Homo sapiens: one gene and its partner. The protein of the gene in region 2 purifies or fractionates together with the protein of the main gene of each other region. This does not show direct contact. Each region holds a gene or a part of one and is shown on either strand. Other genes may lie near its edges.

Evidence for each region.
Region 1: the proteins of SLC25A43 (region 2) and PROSER2 purify together in Homo sapiens (affinity purification with mass spectrometry; 2 studies listed by BioGRID and IntAct, with this or other methods). This does not show direct contact.

The regions. Positions count from the first base shown.
Region 1 is NC_000010.11:11,818,456-11,826,355, reverse strand, and holds the start of PROSER2 (proline and serine-rich protein 2), read right to left. Parts: upstream 3,001-7,900; 5' UTR 2,886-3,000; intron 1-2,885.
Region 2 is NC_000023.11:119,395,416-119,402,402, forward strand, and holds the start of SLC25A43 (solute carrier family 25 member 43), read left to right. Parts: upstream 1-3,920; 5' UTR 3,921-3,988; coding exon 3,989-4,263; intron 4,264-6,987.

The DNA.
Region 1 (7,900 bases), on a different chromosome or scaffold from region 2:
ACAAAAACTTGTACACAACGGTTCATAGCAGTACTATTCACAATAGCCAAAAGGTGGAAACAACCCAAAGTCATTCATCTGATGAATGGGTAAATAGAATGCGATCTGTCCACACAATGGAACATTATTCGGCGATAAAAAGGAGGGAAGCAACGATACACGCCGCGACACGGACGGACCTTGAAAAACATTGTGCTAAGTCAAAGACGCCAGACACAAGAGGCCACAGATTTTAAGATTCCATCTGTATAAACATCCAGAAGGGGCAAGTCTACCGAGACAGAAGGAGATCAGTGGCTGCCAGAGGTTGGGAGAGGGCAATGGGAATCGTCTGCTTAATGGGTTTCCTTTTGGAGTGATGAAAAAGTTCTGGAACTTGATAGTGGTGATGATTGCATAACATTGGGAATGGAATGTACTTAATGCCACTGATTTGTGCACTTTAAAGCGGTAAATTTTATGTTCTATGTATTTGACTATAATAAAAAAGATAAACAGCATGAACTCTTCACAGTGCTACAGTCTCTGGCAATACCTAGTCCGAAGAGACACGTTCACGAAGAGCTCTCCCATCCCTGTCCGACAAGGCAGAATGCTCTCCCCATACAGTCCTTCCCTGCCAATCCTGAATGCACAGATTAGAAACCTAGCACCAACTTTCTTAAAATACTCTTAGGTTTCAAGATGAATGCTGCCAGTCTAGAAAGGGGACAAGGGCATTATGGAAAGCGGCACCTTCACTGTGAGTTCCGCAGACAGAGGCTGTTGATGCCACTGGCTGGACATAACCCGTGCAGAGGGCAGTGCCTCCATGAACACAGGCTTTCCTATGGTGGCCAGGAGACCCCTCAGAGTGGAGCGGGGACGGCTGCAGTCAATCAGGGGCGGAGTTGCAAGGCCCTCTTCTTAGAGCACAGAGGCACCTAGGAAGCAAGCCACCAAGTGCAAAGGAAAGTGAAACGCAACGATGGCCTTCACCGTCAAAGGAAAGAGCTCAGGTTCTGGGATGCTCCTAGGATTCCCCTGGCACCTCCCGAATGGCCTCTGTGCCACCGGCAGCTGCCCCACAACACTGCAGATAAGATGCACTTGAACTTCTAAGTTCTAGAGGCTCCCCTGTTCTCAGCTCTGCTCTACGCAGGCCCTTCCTCTCTCCCCCTTCAGGTTTCCAGGCTCCACTCCTGGAGTTATCTGAGATGATCTTCCAAATCAACACACAGTGCCAACTCTGGGCGCCTTGGGTGTCTAAGAACTTTGGAACCAAGGCCAGGTATCTCTTCAGCTGCCGATGAAGGCTTGCTTGATCTGGTTTTAATCAGTTTGGGCCATGTGGCTGTTATCTAGAAATGACTGTATGCTGGACGACCAGTCACGGCTCTGCGCGCTGTAGGTGGTCAGTCTACAAATATTCCTGAATGAATTAATGGGCAACTCCCCCACCCCCGGCAACCACAGATTCAAACACGCTCAGACCTTCCTAAAAGCATCGCTCCTCTTTCCAGCCTTCGCTCCACTATATCACTCTAATTTTGGATTTCTGATTTCTAGTAATGGAGAAAATGTGTTACTTTTAAATCATCAGCATCTAAAATTTTCAAAGAAAGCTCATTTGAAGTGCTGTTACCAAGGAATATAATCCAGTCGCTTTAACATGGCTATTACTAGTCTGGACAAGAAAACACACAAGATTCCATACATACGCTGTCAACTTTGGCAAGAAAGATTTTAGACAACTTCCATCCTTCCCACCCAATCCCAAGTCAATAGGGCATTTGTTTGTATTTCCACATTGGCTTCATGAACGAAAATACCTCCTCCACCTAGAAAAACAATCAGTAACATTCAGACACGGAACTTGGAGGGCAAACTTTTTAGTGCATGCTGGGGCACTTTTATGTAGTGTTTTTAAAAAATAATGTAAAAAGTATTTTTAATAAAGTTTTCTCCTATGAGTATTTCCCTCAAGTTTCCACGTACGCCTGGTTTGGTCTTTCGATACCTTTCAGAAATACCGATTTTTAAAAAATGTTCTCCGTTAAAATTGGAGCCAGAAAGAACCTTCTTCCTACAGATCTGAACGTTTTACTCTGTTTAGGGTGGAAAAACACACACACACTCATTTTCCTTCACTCACTTTAACTTTTCTGCTCTGCACGCACTAGGTTCTGGTAGAGTTAAAAGTTTTCTGAGGTTAGTTCCTGTGGTTAAGGAAAAAAAAAATACACCAAACAACTACATGCTTAAATTTAGACTCCGTAAAACAATACTGGGAAACTTTCAAAGCCTTGGAGAAATACTGGAGTTTATTTTACTGCCTTTTGTTCAATTTCATCACACGGGCCACATTTTCTCCTCTATTTTAGTCCCTCCCGCCGCGCTGGGCTGGGCAGACCCTGCACATCCCCGCGTGATTCCAGGACCTGGGGGCCCGGGTGGAACAGGTGGCTCCGCCCGCCGTGTCGGACCCGCACCCTCTCCCCGAGGCCGCATGGGGTCCCACGGCGCAAAGGACAGGGGTCCCGGGTTGGGGGACGGACGGTGGGGACAGCGGGGACCCTCTGCGCCCAAGGCTGGGAAACCCGCCTCCACCCCTGAGCCCCCAGGATAGCCCCAGACTCGGAACCCAGCGCGCTCCCCGCCGCGCCCCGACTCCGAGGTCCCCGAGGAGGCAGCGACGCCCCGGGGTCGGGGGTCGGGCACCGGGTGGCCTCTGCGGCGGCGGCGCCGGGCTCCCCTAGTCAGAGCGAGGAGCGCGCCAAGGCAGGGTCCGGCGCCCCCTCTCTGCCCGACCCGCCGGCGTCCCAGCCAGAGCCCAGCGCCGCCACCGCCGCCAGGACGCCCTCCCGTCGCTCCAGCCCTGCCCGGAGTCCTAGGGCCCCACTCACCTCGCGGGAGACCCCTACCCCGGGACTCAGGTGTCCACGCCGCCAGCGACCCGGAGCCCTCACGCCGCCGCCCGTCTGGCGCAGACTGTTCCGGGACGCCCCGCCGCGCGCTCTCCCTGTGCGCGCCCACCCGCGCGCGCTCTACTGCCGCCGCGCGCTCGCGCCGCCCGAACTCGCACTCCTTAGGCACGCACTGCGCGCGCCCGCGGCGCTTAAAGGGCCGGGCCCCGCCGCGCTGGGGGACCTCGCGGCCGCCTCCCGGGGGTCCTCGGTCAAGGTGTGAAGTTCGAGTTGGGGGACAGCACCGTGAAAATCCCCAACCCCATCGCCGAGCGACCCACGCGGAGAAAAGCAATAGGGATGTGTGTCTGAAGCTTGCAAGAGATGGGACATTAATTTAATCTAATTTTTATTGAGACAGGGTCTTGCTGTGTCGCCCAGGCTGGAGTGCACGTTGTACCATCTTGGCTCACTGCAACCTCCACCTCCCAAGTTCAAGTGATACTCGCATCTCAGCCTCCCGAGTAGCTGGTACCACAGGTGCATGCCACCACACCCAGCTAATTTTAAAATTTTTTGTAGAGATGGGTGGGTGGGGGGGGGGGTCTCATTATATCGCCCAGGCTGGTCTCGAACTCCTGGGCTCACGCGATCCTCTCACTTCAGCCTCCCAAAGTGCTGGGATTACAGGCCTGAGCCACTGCACCTGGCCTTTAATTTTTTCTTTTGTTTTTTATTATGGTCAGCTTTGAGAGGCTATTTTATACTTAATAATGCTGATGCAACTTATTGCATACCTGTACCCTCAGACACAGCATTTAATGTGCATACACCACATACATTATTTCATCTAATCCTTAAAATGGTTTTCTGGTTTCTTAACCCCATTTTACAGAGCAGGAAAGCTGAGGTTCAGACAGCTGAAGAAACTCATGGGAGAATTTTTGACCCCATGGCTCGTTGCATTTTCTTCTTCAGGCTATCACCGTGGAAATATCTCCGAAGGTTAATAGCTGGTTGCGGAAGGCTTTTGTAAGTTGGTGGAAGTTAATGTTACTGGGTTTAACTCAGTAGGCAGGGAGAAAGCAAGAGTTATGGGGTTGTATTAATTGTAGGATTTGTTATATACTCAAATGACAAACGTTGTAACAACCTAGATTCCCAAAATGTTTGTGTTGCTTCCCATTTTACAGAAAACTAAGAAGGAAATGGTTGCACAGAATGACTGAGTCACTGGCCCCACTCAGGGTTGAGCCCCAATGCCTTAGTCCTGAGGTCATTTCTTTGCCCTCCCCAGAAAGAGATACCTGATTAAAGGGAAGAAAACTTTTCCTCTAATAACACATTGGCCTCACCTAACTCCCTGCATCTTTAATTAATGTTTACAAAGCACTTTAATCTACCCAACATGCTACTTAATTGGGTCAGTATTATTATCCTCTCTTTCTGAACAAAATCCAGGAGACAATCAACTCTGACAATCCTTAATCCTCAGTGAATAATAAACCTAAGCTTTCTGGTTATGTTCTTTTATTTTCCCTCTTACATTTTTGTCTCATGTTGTGTTAAATATGAACGCATTTATCATGAAGTGACATAATAAATGGTAATATTAAACATCTACCTATAGGTGACAGGTAATATAGCAGCTGCTGTCTTTAAGGAATTCATTTTATTTTATTTTTTGAGACAGGGCCTGGTTCTGTTGCCCAGGCTAGAGTGCAGTGGTGAAATTGTAGCTTACTGCAGCCTCCAACTCCTGGGCTCAAGTGATTCTCCTGCCTCAGCCTCCCAAGCTGGGACTCCAGGCACGAACCATTATGCCTGGCTAATTTTTTATTTTTCTTTTTGTAGAGACAGGGTCTAATTCTCACGGTAGTCCCAAACTTCTGGGCTCAAGTGATCCTCTCCCCTGGGCCGCTCAAAGTGCTGGGATTAAAGGCATGAGCCACCACGCCCGGCCCTTTAAGGAAATCAGATCAAGAGAAAAAAAAAACTTTCCCTTGATTTTGATAAATGATAATTTTGATAAATGTTGATAAATGCTTCCTAGAATTATTTTTCTTTTTATTATTCTTTTTGCTTGGTTAAACTTTTATGGTGCCTTTTCTTACAGTTGAAAAAGAAATGAGAGGGATGAGATTGAAGGATGATGGGGTTGGCAAGGAAGAAGGGGAAAAGAAAAAGGCAGAAAAATAGAAGCAGAAAATAAACAAGGAAGAAAATGAGACTGAGAAGGCTTCAACCAACAGGCAGTTAGGGATGTGAGGCCAGCCCCTGCTAGCATGTCCTAAATCTTTATGGGAATTATGATCAGGTGGCCCTCCTGTGGCCTGGCACAGACCTGGCCAGAAAGTTAGCTCAGGCTGGTCCACTGCCCTGATGTCCCCCTGGCCTATGCACCTTTATGACAACTGAATGCACAAAGGGACTAAAAAGTGAGAAAGGACAGTGAAGCCAGGTCAGAGGAAAAGAAATGGTTTACAGGGGGAAATTTAAAGATGGTTATTTGGCCAGGCCCGGTGGCTCATGCCTGTAATCCCATCACTTTGGGAAGCCAAGGTAAGCGGATCACCCGAGGTCAGGAGTTCGAGACTAGCCTGGCCAACATGGCGAAATCCCATCTCTACCAAAAATACAAAAATTAGCTGGGCGTGGTGGCACATGCCTGTAATACCAGCTACTCAGGAGGCTGAGCTAGGAGAGTTGCTTGAACCCAGGAGGTGGAGGTTGCAGTGAGCCGAGATTGCGCCACTGCACTCCAGACTAGGTGACAGGGTCTGTCTCAAAAATAACTAAATAAAGATAGTTATTTATGAAAGTACTTAGATAATGTCCATAGGAAAAGAAATGAACAAAGAAATATCTGGAGGGTCTTTGTATTGTTACAGTTTTAAAACTTATGAAATTTTTAAAATTTCACTGTAATGTCACTTGACTTTTTCATAAATGTTTTCTGAGGCTGGTCTTTGCTAAGAAAATCCTGATAATACATGACCCCCAAATATTAAAGAAATATTAATGAACTTTATATAGGTTAAGAATTTTAAAGTAAGCTAAAAAGAAAAGCTATGTCTTTTCATGTTATAAAGGAGTATATTAATTACTGTATAAAATTGACTTCAGAGCCAGGCGCAGTGGCTCATGCCTGTAATCCCAGCACTTTGGGAGGCCGAGGCGGGTGGATCACGAGGTCAGGAGATCGAGACCATCCTGGCTAACACGGTGAACCCCATCTCTACTAAAAATACAAAAAATTAGCCAGGCGTGGTGGCGGGCGCCTTGTAGTCCCAGCTACTCCGGAGGCTGAGGCAGGAGAATGGCGTGAACCCGGGAGGCGGAGCTTGCAGTGAGCAGAGATCGCGCCACTGCACTCCAGCCTGGGCAACAGAGCGAGACTCCGTCTCAAAAATAAATAAATAAATAAATAGACTTCAGAAACTGTACTATATTGTAATATATATCATGACCACTAGAGGGAGGCAGACAGGAAAGGAGAAAGAAAGGTAAGAAAATTTCATAACTTTACTAAAAAATCGACAGCAGTTTGGATCTGACAGGGGAGATGTAAAAGACATGATTTGTTATTACCTCAAGCTGTTTATCCTTTTTGAGCCTCAGTTCCTCATCTATATAATGAGGCTATTAACGCCTACCCTGTAAGGCTAAAATGAAAGTATTTTAAAGTGTATCTGAACAAATTGAACAAATGATAGGTGAGAAAAGTTAACAAAATTAAGAAAATGAAGAAAAATATGGGCAATTGACCTATTTATTATTGAAACATAGTCTAAGGCTTTACTGATGAAATGTATCATAATAGAACAATATAACCCAGGAAAAGGTAGTGTACACTTTCATATGTGATAAAAGTCATCAAAAATAAATGAAAAAGAGATGGAGTCTCAATAAATGGAGGTAAGAAACGTAGTAATTTGAAAAGATAATCAAGTTAAGCCCTTACCTGTCATTATATGCTGAAAGATGTTCTAGCTACATTAAATAATTTTAAGGTCTAGCGTGGTGTCTCACACCTGTAATCCCAGCACTTTGGGAGGCTGAGGCAGGAGGATTGCTTGAGCCCAGAATTTCAAGACCAGCTTGAGCAACATAATGAGACCCCCGTCTCCACAAAAAAATACAAAAATTACCCAGATGTGGTAGTGCATGCCTTTAGTCCCAGCAGCTCACAAGGCTGAGATGGGAGGATCACCTAAGCCTGGGGGCGTTGAGGCTGCAGTGAGCTGTGATTGCGCCACTGCACTCCAGGTTGGAGGCAGAGAGAGATCCTGTCTCAAAAAAACAAAAAAAAATTTTAAAATTAGGGGAACATATAGGCAAATATTTATGTGATCTCAAGGTGAGGAAAGAAAAGAAACAGAATACTCAGGAAGGAAATGACCATTAGATTAGATTACATAAAAATTTTTAAAATTCTGGTAACTAAAAATATTGCAAACAGAATTCTAAAAGACAAAAAAAAATCTGAAATGACAGAACTCTGCATAACAAATCCAAGATTTAATTGCATCTTTAGGAGTACACACAGATTAATAAGAAAACCCTAATAAGTCTGTGGGAAAATTTCCTTAAAGAGAAAATTAAAGTGGTTAGTAATTAGCCATGCGTATATCTGTGTAAGTGTGTGTTATTATATTTTAAAGGGTTTAGGTTACCTAGTAATTTAAAAAATAAAAATGTTAAATAATACACAATATTCTCACCTTATAAATTAGAAAATATATTTCAGGTTCTAATATTCAATGCTGGCAGGAGTGCAAAGAAATGGGCAATTTTATTTATTTATTTATTTAGAGATGGAGTCTTGCTCTGTCCCCCAGGCTGCAGCGCAGTAGTGCTATCTCAGCTCACTACAACCTCAGCCTCCCAGGTTCAAGCGATTCTCCTGTCTCAGCCTCCTGAGTAACTGGGACTACAGGCGTGCACCACCACGCCCGGCTAATTTTTTGTATTTTTAGTAGAGATGGGGTTTCACCATGTTGGCTAAGCTGGTC
Region 2 (6,987 bases):
TGGCTCACGCCTGTAATCCTGGCACCTTGGGAGGCCAAAGGGGGCAGATCACTTGAGGTCAGTAGTTTGAGACCAGCCTGGCCAACATGGTGAAATTCCGTCTGTACTAAAAATACAAAAATTAGGGCCGGGCACGGTGGCTCATGCCTGTAATCCCAGCACTTTGGGAGGCCAAGGCAGGTGGATCACGAGGTCGGGAGATAGAGACCCTCCTGGCTAACACGGTGAAACCCCGTCTTTACTAAAAATGCAAAAAAATTAGCCAGGTGCGGTGGCGGGCGTCTGTAGTCCCAGCTACTCTGAAGGCTGAGGCAGGACAATGGCATGAACCTGTGAGGCGGAGCTTGCAGTGAGCCAAGATTGCGCCACTGCACTCCAGCCTGGGTGACAGAGCAAGACTCCGTCTCAAAAAAAAAAAAAAAAAAAAATTAGATTGGTGAGGTGGTGGCTGCTTGTAGTCCCAGCTACTGGGGAGGCATGAGAATTGCTTGAACCTGGGAGGCAGAGGTTGCAGTGAGCTGAGATCGTGCCACTGTACTCCAGCCTGGGCAACAGAGCGAGACTCTGTCTCAAAACTAACTAAATAAATCAATAAATAATAAAAGAAAATAAAAGGGCACACAGTCAAAACTCAATCTCCCTTCCACCTCTGTTCCCAAGTCTCCAGGTTTCCTTCCCCAAAGATAACCTGATTATCAGTTTTTTGGGTATCCTTCCAGAGGAATTATTTCTTTTCTGTTTCAAAGGAAGGAAAGAAGGAAGGTAAGAAGGAGGGAAGAGCGGAAAGGAGGAGAAAGCAACCCCATATAAATATTTATTGGTCTGAGCATGAAAAAAAAATATGAGGAAAAACATTCACACACGCACCAAGCTCTTAACCGTGGTTACCTCAGGGCATGGGCAGGGGAACTTAACTTTCTTTAATACACTTCTGGACTATTTGTCTTGTTACAACAGGTATAAACTACTTTATAATTTACAAATTTCCCAAAAAGTAAAAAATAAAAGAAAATTAGGAGAGCAGGAATCAATCAACATTAGTATAAATATAACAAGATAAATTATATTCTAAGAAATACTAGCAAGTTAAACTAAAGTAATGTACTGAGAGATTTCAGTTGGTGAGAAGATAAACTGAAAAATGAAAGCTGGAGAATTTAAAAAACTGTTAGCATCTCCCAAGCCCTGACTGGGGCAACGAGAGGCTGCCTAGGGCTTAACTCTCAGCTGGCCACCTTTCTCCTTATATTGCAACATAACTTCTAAGATTTTTTTTTTTACTCACTGCCTCTTCCTTTTTAGTTATCATACATTTATTTTTAGCATAGCACCCCAATTTCACATCATGTACATTTTCCAAAGTTGGAGCTTGTTAACCTACTATGCTCTCCACAGACTTTTCAACAAGTGTGAAAAAGAGGCAATAAGGTTGGCTTGAGTATACAAGTCACAATCCAAATACAGGATATCCTCGGAGATTTATTTATGTTTAGGATGAATATACATAAGGTGCCCAATGCTAAGCAGATGAATGAGACTCTGGCTGAGTAAAATATGAACACCTGGTTAGCACATGATCATGAAAAGACAGAAGGCATCCAATATATAGTTTGGTGTTATTCATTTTATGCTTCAGTGTACCTGCAGTGAAAAATATACATTTTACTTTCTTTTTTTTTGAGACGGAGTCTCGCTGTCACCCAGGCTGGAGTGCAGTGGCGTGATCTCGGCTCACTGCAGGCTCCGCCCTCCAGGGTTCACGCCATTCTCCTGCCTCAGCCTCCCAAGTAGGTGGGACTACAGGCGCCCGCCACCTCGCCCGGCTAATTTTTTGTATTTTCAGTAGAGACGGGGTTTCACCGTGTTAGCCAGGATGGTCTCGATCTCCTGACCTCGTGATCCGCCCGCCTCAGCCTCCCAAAGTGCTGGGATTATAGGCGTGAGCCACCGCGCCCGGCCATACATTTTACTTTCAAGGTTAAAATAGGCCAGGCGCGGTGGCTCATGCCTGTAATTTCGGCACTTTGGGAGGCCGAGGCAGGTGGATCATCTGAGGTCAGGAATTCGAGACCAGCCTGGCCAACATGGCGAACCCCATCTCTACTGAAAATACAAAAAAATTAGTTGGGTATGGTGGCACATGCCTGTAGTCCCAGCTACTTAGGAGGCTGAGGCAGGAGAATCGCTTGAACCTAGGAGGCAGAGGTTACAGTGAGCCAAGACCATGCCACTGCACTTCACCCTGGGCGACAGAGCGAGACTCTGTCTCAAAAAAAAAAAAAACATAACTTGGCTGACCCAATCTCCATACAATGGGGTTATCACATGAAATGTTCCAGACCCACGAACTTCCTGAAAGAGCTTTAGAATCTTGTCCCGTTATCCAACAAAGGGCTTTAGGAAGTACCAGTACCCGAAGGTTTCCTTATTGTAATCCCCAAATTCCAATTCAAGCCCTTTTAAAGTCGGGGTCCTCCGGTCTTCAGAGTCATACATCTTTCTCAAGCTTCCCCCAGCCATCAAATTAGCTTACAACAAGACAGAAGAATTCACAAAACATGAAAATAAGCATTCCCCAATTGTTGAGAGCAGAGTATGGCTTCTGCAACTAGAACAAGTTCTCACAGTCAAAACCTTGTAATGTCATACTCAAGTGAGATTGACAGTGAAAAATAAAAAAGGAGAAACCCTGCAATGCCTTTTAGAAAACGTTCCTATAGCATTGTGTGTTAGTAAATGTAAATAACTATACAAGCCTAAAAACAACTATGTACCCGGAACATCTTGCTCACACCAACAGACTGCTGACAGTTCCTTTCCTTGTAATTATTAGTGACATGGCTTTTTTAGAAAAAAAAGAGACAGAAAGAAATTCTGAAATTCTGAAATTTTTGAACTGATTAAAGAATCCTCGGATTCTGGCCAAGCCTCTCTTAGCCATTCTTTGCCTCTATTGTTCTCTTAGCTTACAGAACCACTGAAAATGTCCCTACTGGAGTTAACTCTGCAGTCCTAGTAGACATATAGTGTAGCCGTTAGTGGAAACTGACATAAACCGCCCTAGATTTCAAACCGGTCTCTGCTTTGTAGGTAGCTGTGTGAGCCTGAGCAAGTCCTCTCTGTGTCTTGGTTTCCTCTCCTGTAAATGAATACCTAATCAGAACTAACACATATAAACTGCTTACCCATACCAGTCATTGTTCATTAATCCTTACAACAACCCCTAGGAGGAAAAAATTATAATCTCTGTTTTATAAAGCAACTGACACACAGAGAGGTTGAGTGACTTCCCCAAGGTCCCACAGCTGGTAAGCTGCAGAGCCAAGAATCTTACACAGGTTCAAGAGTCCAGATTCAAGTCCCCACACCCACACAGCCTCTGTCAATGAGGACATACGTACTTAGGGCCGTTTTGAGGATTACATGAGAACGTCTGTAAAGCCCAGTACTTGACAAGTGCCTGAGAGATAGCAACTGTGGTTGTTAGAATTTTTTACCTTCTGCACTGGGAAACCATCAAGGCTTTTTGGTTAGGCAGGAAAAAAAAATGGGTTGGAGGCAAGAGGAGGAGGAGGGAAGCGCCAGGGGAGGAAGACAGAGAAGTGGCACGTGAAAGGGAGAAAAGGGGCAAACCAGAGGAGAGGCAGGGAGGGGCGGCGGGGGCGCACTGAACATTTAGGAAGCAAGATGTCTAGCAGGCTGGGCCTTGAGAGAACAGTAACTGTTTCGCAACTGAAAGTCGCTACTCGAGCCTTGCCAACTGGGGAGACTATGCCCATGATATCCGCGGCCTCGGACCCCGGACCCTCCAGGCCCTCGCGCCCCACCCCCGACCAGCCTCGGGCCAGGCTAGGGCGTAGACGGGGCTTCCCGTCCCTCACGCGGGCCCGCCCCATGCCGGGCGGGGCCTGGGGCCCGCCACCTCCGCCCGTGGCCGGAGAGCCCCAGGCCCGAGCCACGCGGTCTTCCGGGCCCGGGTCGGGGCTCGATGGCTACGTGGAGGCGGGACGGCCGACTGACAGGCGGCCAAAGGCTGCTGTGCGCTGGGCTGGCGGGGACGCTCAGCCTCAGCCTCACCGCGCCCCTGGAGCTCGCCACCGTGCTGGCCCAGGTTGGCGTCGTGCGAGGCCACGCCCGGGGACCGTGGGCCACAGGGCACCGGGTGTGGCGGGCAGAGGGGCTCCGGGCCCTGTGGAAGGGGAACGCGGTGGCGTGCCTGCGCCTCTTCCCCTGCAGCGCCGTGCAGCTCGCCGCCTACCGCAAGTAAGAGCCGGGCGGGGCCGGGGAACCGGGAGACCGGACGGGGGTGGGGTGGGGGAGCCGCGGCCCGACGCCGCCCTGCTGCCTGGACTCGGGGCCCTGGAGTAGGGACGGCCCCCTTGTCGATCACCTGGGGACCCCTCGGGGCGGTGGGCCACCTCTATGGCCCCCAGAGTGCAGCCCCAATGCTTTTCACGTTCTCTTGGGGTTACCGCCCTGCAAGATGCAGTTTTGTGGTCCGCAGCCCTGGTCCGAGAGGCTTTCCGGATTGGACCGGGCGAGGAGGTGGAATGCAGCAAAGGATTTGGAGGAAAGGAATGAAAAGCTCTCCAGAGAGATGAGTCCTAACCATTTCCACCGTCCTCCAATTTGGAAACTTTTGCTTAGGCTGGCTTAGGAAGAGAGAGACCCTTTTAAAGGTGTTTTTGTCTGTGTGACCCAAGCCCCGAGAAGAAAGTGCTTGGTGTGGGGAAAGGACCCGATCCATCGATACGAAAAGGCCGCAGATTTTTGCCCACACATCTCCCCAACTTAAATGAAGCTTGACTTCAGGCTCCGACAGAGGCTGCAGCTTCCCCTCCCCAAGCTGAGAACGGCCCCCTCAGCCTACCGCTTCACCCCACTGGCCTCATTTATTTGGGCCTTTTCCACCTTCTCCCACATCAACAGCTGCTCCTTAGGAAAAGATCTAAAGGTGTAAATGCAGCCTTAAAGCTTCCACCGAGCTCAGAGGTACCTGCATTTGAACTGGAAACCAAGCCTGAAAGAATGAATTGGTAGTGATGGCATTTCAGGAAGCAGAGATGTTTCTGTATTGGGGGGACGGTCCCTGTGTTCCTCATTCAGTGGGCACAGTGGCATCTTTGATATCGCCTTGGCTCTGAATTAGACAAACAGCCCACATTTGGGAGAGTCGGTCTTGACCGCATAGTTTAGTCTTGGCGGCTAATAGTCAAAGGATTTTGCCTTGACACTGTCACTCACCTGGGAGGCCAGAGGTGGAAGGCTCACCTGGCAGCCGACAAGCCGAACGGAATCATCCTTATTACCTAGGCCTCTAGGCCAGTACTCATTTTGCCTCTGCCTGGAAATAGAGTTCCCTTCTCTTCCTCTGCAGAGGGACTCATGGGTGGGACCATGACATTTAGTTAAGGCCCTTTTTCCTCCCCACCTCTGCTTGCCCTCATCAACATCTGGCCTGCAGTCTGTAAACAGTTCTCCTCTGAGTCTTAATGACTCAGTTTCTCCCCCACTTCACCCTCTTCTCTACAAAGTAGTGTGGAAATCTTCCTTTGGATGGGATAAAATATGTCCAGAGGGGTGGGGGGCAGAACTTCAAAGGCTGGTTTAAGTATTGTGGCTCTTCTGCTAAGCACCTAGTATATGCACATTAGATTTTTTAAGCTCCTGCCTCCTGCCCTGTAAGGTCCATAGGACAGGAAGCATTGTGCCTGTTTTACAGATGCAGAATTGGGCTCAGAGTGATGACACCTCTTGTCAGTGACCGAGCTGAGCTCCACTACCTGGCCTTCTGACTCCAAATCTCATAGTCTTTCTGTTACATCATGCTGCCTCCCTGCATCCATTTGACACTAATTTAGTCAGGCTACATTAAGTCCCCACTGTGTGCACGATGCTGAGGACAATGCCAGGATGGAAGGGGCATGGTCCCTGTGCCCCAGGAGCTTACAGAGTAATAGAAGAGTAAGACTAATATGTCCATGACCATAACACACAAGGTAGCATGTGATTGTCATGGATAATGTGCTCTAGAAATGTACCCTTCTGATGAGCGATGAGGAGGAGAAAATGTGAAGACTTCATAGAGGAGAAAAAAATTTGAGTTTGGCATTGGGAGAATGAGGAGTCTGCTGGGCAGAGATGGAGAGAAAGATACTGCAGTTGATGTCAGCAAATGCACAGAGGTGGGAAGGCAAGCAGCACAACAGGAAGTCCAACCAGAAAAGCAGGTTGGAATGAGATATTAGAGGGTTGGATTAAGGGATTTGGACTTGACTTGGTATCCAAGGGTAGCTGTGGGAGGTTTTTGTGGGGGGTGGGGGGAGGTGTGTTGTGATTAAAGCAATTCAATGGAAATGATCGTCACATCGTGGCAGAGTAAGATGACTAGAGAGGAGGAAGAGTGGAGACAGCAGGGCCAGTTAGGAACCTGTTGCACTAGTCCACATAGCAGCTGAGGGCACCGGCAATAGGTGACCATGGGAGCAGAGAGGAGGAGATGTCTGGGAGAACGAGAACAGAGACTTACCTGGGCTAGGTTTGCTAGGAATTTTTTTTCCCCTACAGGATTATTTTCTTTCTGAAAACTAAAAGGAAGTATTTTGGTGAATGGCAAGGCATAGTTGGAAAGCAAAGTGTTTGATTAATCGCGATGCCATCCTTCCTACATCAACATGATACTCTTGATTCATCATTATACTGATTCATTTCTACTCTTTTCTGACCATGAATTTGCAAAACAGTTGGCTGGGGGCCTGTGATCATGGGTTTGAACAAAACATAAACATCCAGAATGTTCAGGGAATGGGGTAGTTAAGTGACTTGTCCACAAATGCAATTAATGGAAGAGCTGGAACTTGAAGCCAAGTCTTCTGGCTCCTTAGTTCAGGTCTCTGTCTACCATTGCACAGCAGAAATATCTGCTTAGTTGGATTGACGATCAAGAGTCCACTCAGTAGTCTGTTGGGAGCTAGGTTATTGTAATGG